Linked DNA regions of Homo sapiens: region 1 is reported to be linked to region 2. Evidence: microRNA targets listed by miRTarBase, many of them from high-throughput screens and not tested one by one. Region 2 holds a microRNA gene; the other region holds the end of a gene's coding sequence.

Region 1 (3,508 bases), not on the chromosome of region 2:
AGGCCAGACTCTGGGAGCCCTGGGAGGGTGGAAAAGTGGGTTTCATCTCTCTCCACTCCCTTCCAGATGAGGAGCAGGAGAAGGGCAGCAGCAGTGAGAAGGAGGGCAGTGAAGATGAGCACTCGGGCAGCGAGAGTGAACGGGAGGAAGGTGACAGGGACGAGGCCAGTGACAAGAGTGGCAGTGGTGAGGACGAGAGCAGCGAGGATGAGGCCCGGGCTGCCCGTGACAAAGAGGAGATCTTTGGCAGTGATGCTGATTCTGAGGACGATGCCGACTCTGATGATGAGGACAGAGGACAGGCCCAAGGTGGCAGTGACAATGATTCAGACAGCGGCAGCAATGGGGGTGGCCAGCGGAGCCGGAGCCACAGCCGCAGCGCCAGTCCCTTCCCCAGTGGCAGCGAGCACTCGGCCCAGGAGGATGGCAGTGAAGCTGCAGCTTCTGATTCCAGTGAAGCTGATAGTGACAGTGACTGAGTCCCAGGGCATTCAGGGCTGGTTCAGACACCATTATTGTGAGCAGCAAAGCACTTTTCTAGTGGTCTGTTTGTGAGCCTTTCACTTGTTTGTTCCCCACCCCCAAACCTTTGCTGTTAATAAAGTCAACTTCTCTTTACTTCCCCTCCCAGCCCCTATGATGTCATTCAGCCCAGCACATACCTCCCGCAACCCCCAGGTGCTCAAGGATCTTGGCTTGAGGCTTAGAAACACAGGCCAGAGGCAGGGCCAATGGTTTCCCACAAAATGTAGCACAACGAAGGTCAGAATTCGTTTTTTTTGTTTGTTTTTTTTTTTTCCAAAATAAGCCCAGACCATTAAACAAGTGAAACTCCAACAAATAAGTCTTCTCCAACAGCGAGAAAAACTGTACAGTTACTCAAAGCTGATTCTGCCAGTGGGGCCGGGGACAGAAGTGGGTAGGGAGGGTGAAATCATGGAGGAGGGCCTGGGGAGGGGGCTGGAGCGGGAGAGGGTCAGGGTCCTGCCCATCAGAGTGGGGCCGCCTGCGTCCTGCACACTCTGCTGTCAGGTGGGGTGGGGGGCAGCTCTTGCCTCCCTGTGTGTGTGAGACGGTGTCCCTCACCACCTCCCAGTGCCAGGCACAGTCAGCTCACCCTGATGGAGAGTGAACAAGACAGGACAGGCTGGGGAGAGGGGAGGGTCCCATGAGAGGGACACCCTGCTGATTCCAAACGAGGTGGCCCATCCATCCCACTTCCTGCAGCTAGTGGGAGGGGGACTGGAGAAGCCCTGGGAGATTGAGGGGATGAGCAAAGGCACAGAAACATGGAGGGCCGGGGTGGGGGACTTGCATAGGTTGATGAGTGTGCAAGAGGTACATAAATAAACCTGACACCCCACCCAGCCCGGCACTGGGAGAGGAAGTGGGGACCCAGAGCCAGGTTCCCAGGGCCACCCTACCCCCTGGCTTCTTCCCCCTCCCTGGGCTCAGAGCAGAGGGAAGTCCACAGACCAGGAGGGCGGGGGCAAGAAGGTCTGGGGAATGGGGTGATAGTGCAGGGAGGGTGGTGGTTTTAAAATTTTTTTTTTTTTTGTTTTTTTTGTTTTTTTCCCAACATTTTGTATCTTTAATAACATACACAATGGTTACCAGCCATATTCATAACAAAAGTTATTCATAAAATGTATCTAAAAATAACATTTTTTTTCCTTTTCGGTGTGAAAAGCTTGAGAATGTCCCAGTTGGGAAGGTGGGTTGAGGGGGAGGAGGGCGTTGAAGAGGGAGACCCTGGCTTCCCCGCAGTCTGAACCCCCAAATCCCCTCCCTCCACCTGGGCCCCAACACAACCCCTCATTAGGAATAGGGACCAGACAGTCTGTCGGACTCTGGGGCTGGGACGAATCTCTGGGTTATGATATAGTGTTCCACTTAAGTGAGGTCATGACATAATGGGGGAAGGAAAAAGGCTGAAAGAAAAGGGAGGGGCTTAGGGAAAAACCCAAAAACCAAACAATCCCCTTTCCCTTATTCCTGACTCCCAAGTCTCACCAACCAGACCTGGGAGCGGAGAAGGGTGTGTGTTCGTGGGGAAGGGGACGTTAAGGCAACAGACTTCCTGACCTCACTGGCTACCCTGGCTGCCCACCTCCAACCTCTTCATCCGGGTAGCCAGGGCTGGAGGAAAATGGGTTAGAGCTTGAGGGTCTGGAGGAGGGGGCTCTGCCCTCTCCCCTCATAAAGTTCAGGCTCTCCCTGCCACTGTCTTGGCTGAGAGAGACCTGGGGATTCTAAAAATGAGAGGAAATGATCAGAGAAAAACCGTTAAGAACTATATAAATATGTATCTTAAATAGGCCTAAGAAATTAATCATAGAGAACCTCTGGTGAACAGGGCCAGGGGAGGTGAGAGAGAGGAAGGTGGCTCCTGTCCTTGCAGAATGTGGGGAATGGTGAAGGGGAAGCAGGGAGAGGAGAGAGAGCTTCCTCTCCTTGCTCCCCTTCCTTCTCCCCAGCTCCTCTCAATAACATTCTGGAGGGCAGGTTCTCTGCCCTGCGCGTCACCCCAAATGTCAAATGTTTCTGAGCAGGCTCCACAAGGTAGTGGTCAGTTTGTCTCTGGGGAGTCTGCTCCCTTGGGGAGAGGCAGGTGGTCAGCGGTCTGGAGGAGGCAGGGGTGGGATGGGACCAGGTGGGGATGAGGAAGGAAAGGAGAGAGGCAGGCAGTCTGGCCAGTCCCTGCCCCCTTTATCCTGGCTGCCCCCAACTCCCCGGGCCTCAGCAGAGATCCCTCGACGGGCCTGGGAGTGAGCAAGGCATGTGCCAATGTTAAACAAAAGTTAAGAGGGTAAGAGAGTAGAAAAATATTAGAATATATAGCTGAGCCAGCCCACCCTCTCGCTGTCGCGGAGAAGCCCGTTGGGGGTTGGCCCCCGCCCGCCGCCCAGGGAGCCTATGGGTGCGCTGGGCTGTGGGTCCCGTCAGATGGTGGAGGTTTTGTCTGTCCCATCTGTGGTAAGAAAGGGAGGAAGGGAGGAAGATCAGGAGCTGGAGGGAGGCCCAAGAAAAGGCACTCAGGTAGCCTGTCATCCCAGTCAGGCCCTCCCTGGAGTCTGGCCTCCCCTGGGGACCCCTCAGGATGACTCTGAGTTGCTCAGTTCAGAGGCAGAGACGCTGGGTAGGTGGGAGCTGGGTCAGGGAAAGAGGAAATGCTCACCACCCAAGGCGTGTTCTGTCATGCTCAGACACAGAGACTCCAGAGTGGGATTGATCTCCAGGTCAGGCCCAGGAACCGGGCAGTCTGGGTGGGAGAGAGGAGAATGGGGGTGGTAAGGACCAACTGGACTCAGGTGAAGACAGCTGGGATGACAAAGGATGCTGGTATGGGAAGGGAGCAAGAGAGATGGAGGGGGAGAGGGAAGAACGGGAGGAGGTGGACAGGGAGAGAGGCGAGCGTGTCACACAACAGGCAGAGGAGACAATGGCAATGGCAGAGGCTTGGCAATACAGAAAAAGCCCGACTTGCAGAGAGTGGAATTGAAACTGA
Region 2 (3,000 bases):
GCCCACCAGTGCACTCCAACATCCCCATGATGGATCAGAAGGCCATATTCCAGCAGCCTCCAGTTGGGGTGCGCAAGATTGTCTTGGCCACCAACATTGCTGAGACTTCCATCACAATCAATGACATCGTGCATGTGGTGGACAGTGGGCTGCACAAGGAAGAACGCTATGACCTGAAGACCAAGGTGGCACCTACCTCCTGGGCCCGGCCAACCACTGGGGGAGGGACTCCGTTTTGAGGTGGTCCCCAGCCCAGATCTACCTTAGACCTGCTTTGTGTGTCTTCAGAAGGCCGCGCTTGTGGGGTCTCAGTGTTCCTGATGTAGGGGGCTGGTGAGGGTTACTCAGGGAGTGGGGAAGCACTGAGGAAGTGGCATTTGTGTGCTGCTTACTTGCCACCTCCTCCAGGTGTCCTGCCTGGAGACAGTGTGGGTATCAAGAGCCAATGTGATCCAGCGCCGGGGCCGGGCGGGCCGCTGCCAGTCCGGCTTTGCCTACCACTTGTTCCCTCGAAGCCGGCTGGAGAAAATGGTCCCTTTCCAAGTGCCAGAGATCCTGCGCACACCTCTTGAGAACCTGGTGCTGCAAGCGAAAATCCACATGCCTGAGAAGACGGTGCGGCGGGGCGGGGCAGGGGCTGGCCTGGGGACCAGGCAGGTGGGAGGCAGGCTCATGGCGGGCTCTGGCTCTGTCATAGGCGGTGGAGTTCCTGTCCAAGGCTGTGGACAGTCCAAACATCAAGGCAGTGGACGAGGCTGTGATCTTGCTCCAGGAGATCGGTATGTAGGGGCTGGGCTGGGCTGGGCTGGGGAGTGGCTCTCGAGGGTGGTACTGACAGCTGAGCCGTTGCAGGGGTGCTGGACCAGCGGGAGTACCTGACTACCCTGGGGCAGCGCCTGGCTCACATCTCCACCGACCCCCGGTTGGCCAAGGCCATTGTGTTGGCTGCCATCTTCCGTTGCCTGCACCCACTACTGGTGGTCGTTTCCTGCCTCACCCGGGACCCCTTCAGCAGCAGCCTACAGAACCGGGCAGAGGTGGACAAGGTCAGTCCTGGCTCCTTCCTGGAGCCGTCCACCCACTGCTGTTCTGAGGGGGCGTTGTCTAGCCCCTGCCTGTGATCCGGCTGCCCTCTTCTCCCCTCCCAGGTGAAAGCACTGTTGAGCCATGACAGCGGCAGTGACCACCTGGCCTTTGTGCGGGCTGTCGCCGGCTGGGAGGAGGTGCTGCGTTGGCAGGACCGCAGCTCCCGGGAGAATTACCTGGAGGAAAACCTGCTGTACGCACCCAGCCTGCGCTTCATCCACGGTCAGTCGGGCCCACACCTGCTCTCCTGAGCCCCTCCCACCCCCACTGAGTTTCTGTCACCTCCAGCCTGTGGCTAGGGGCTGTAGGTCCACCACACATTCTGTCTCCCTAGGACTCATCAAGCAGTTCTCAGAGAACATTTATGAGGCCTTCCTGGTGGGGAAGCCCTCGGACTGCACCCTGGCCTCCGCCCAGTGCAACGAGTACAGTGAGGAGGAGGAGCTGGTGAAGGGCGTGCTGATGGCCGGCCTCTACCCCAACCTCATCCAGGTGCTGCCTCTGGGAGGGAATGGAGTTCACCAGGTCCCAGCCTCCTTCCCTGTCTGCAGCTCCTTGCTCAGCCCCACCCGTCTTTTCCTCCATCCCTGCAGGTGAGGCAGGGCAAGGTCACCCGGCAGGGGAAGTTCAAGCCCAACAGCGTCACATATAGGACCAAATCAGGCAACATCCTGCTGCACAAGTCGACCATTAACAGGTGAGGGCATGCAGGCCTGGATGGGGCAGCTGGGATGGTCCAAAAGGGTGGCCTCACCAGCCCTGTGTTCCCTAGGGAGGCCACACGGTTACGGAGCCGATGGCTGACGTATTTCATGGCAGTCAAGTCCAATGGCAGCGTCTTCGTCCGGGACTCCTCTCAGGTGCACCCGCTAGCTGTGCTGCTGCTGACCGACGGGGACGTGCACATCCGTGGTGGGTGCCTGCAGGCCTCCCGCCCACCCCGCTCTGCAGCTGCTCCTCCGGGGCCTGGCCTCACCACAGTTCCCCACCATCTTTTCCATTCCCTCAGATGACGGGCGCCGGGCCACCATCTCACTGAGCGACAGTGACCTGCTGCGGCTGGAGGGTGACTCGCGTACCGTGCGGCTGCTGAAGGAGCTGCGGCGGGCCCTGGGCCGCATGGTGGAGCGGAGCCTGCGCAGCGAGCTGGCTGCACTTCCCCCCAGCGTACAGGAGGAGCACGGGCAGCTGCTTGCGCTACTGGCAGAGCTGCTGCGAGGACCCTGTGGCAGCTTTGATGTGCGCAAGACAGCTGACGACTGAGCCCTGCTTCTGCTGGGGCTGTGTACAGAGTGCAAATGTTTATTTAAAATAAAGTTCTATTTATCCCTTGTGACCACTGCTGTCCACTAGGGGCTCCTCTCTCAGGGCCTCCATACACTGGGCCACGGTTCCCCAAAGAGGAAGGAGGAAGGTAGGTAGAGAAGAGAGTGAGATGCTTATTGCTGGGGAACGGGCTGGCTGTGGCCCCAAGTCTTTTAAGAGAGAAGGGGGTTGGAACCTCCTCCCTTCACCAAGAAAGAGCATGAAGCAGCGGTGCTGTTAACCACCCCAGTCCCCTGGCACAGCTGCTGCTCTCGGTACCCACCACAGGAAGCCTGTCAGAACTGTCACTGTCCTTGTAGTTTTGGACAGTAAGTAAGCAAGTAAGTGTCAAGTAGCCCTTTATCAGGCAGACTAGGGGAGAGTTCCACAGGTAGCCAAGGCGCAGGGCTATGTGGCACAGTGGTCCTTCCCGTGTCCACATCCACAAGTTCACAGCTGAGGGGCTGAGCTGAGGGCAGGAAGATCCAGGGAGGTGGTAGATGCAAAACGAGACAGAAGCACGAAGCCTGCGTGATGGGACATCAGGCAGCTTTATTTATTTACTCTTAAAACTGTTACAACAGAATCATGGACTGACACAGGTAATGG

What was found. Region 2 holds the annotated microRNA hsa-miR-1226-3p (UCACCAGCCCUGUGUUCCCUAG, at 1,837-1,858, shown strand). A microRNA usually pairs through its seed, bases 2 to 8, with sites in the 3' UTR of a target mRNA and lowers its output. Matches are read on the target gene's strand: a 7mer-m8 pairs with bases 2 to 8, a 7mer-A1 pairs with bases 2 to 7 and ends in A, and an 8mer does both.
Region 1: miRTarBase lists PAF1 as a target of hsa-miR-1226-3p. The part of its 3' UTR that is shown has no 7-base or 8-base seed match.

The regions. Positions count from the first base shown.
Region 1 is chr19:39,382,962-39,386,469 of GRCh38, reverse strand. It overlaps PAF1 (PAF1 component of Paf1/RNA polymerase II complex), which reads left to right. Exons shown (of 14, transcript NM_019088.4): 14 at 67-841. The coding sequence ends at 479. SAMD4B (sterile alpha motif domain containing 4B) reads right to left here. Exons shown (of 14, transcript NM_001384574.2): 13 at 3,179-3,262; 14 at 770-2,971. The coding sequence ends at 2,943. Among named protein-coding and RNA genes, the nearest start is that of PAF1, 6.4 kb to the left of the region's middle.
Region 2 is chr3:47,847,772-47,850,771 of GRCh38, forward strand. MIR1226 (microRNA 1226) reads left to right here and starts at 1,784; the gene lies at 1,784-1,858. DHX30 (DExH-box helicase 30) reads left to right here. Exons shown (of 22, transcript NM_138615.3): 14 at 10-185; 15 at 409-615; 16 at 698-779; 17 at 853-1,046; 18 at 1,149-1,308; 19 at 1,421-1,578; 20 at 1,680-1,783; 21 at 1,859-1,998; 22 at 2,096-2,422. The coding sequence ends at 2,349. It overlaps MAP4 (microtubule associated protein 4), which reads right to left. Exons shown (of 21, transcript NM_001385682.1): 21 at 2,924-3,000.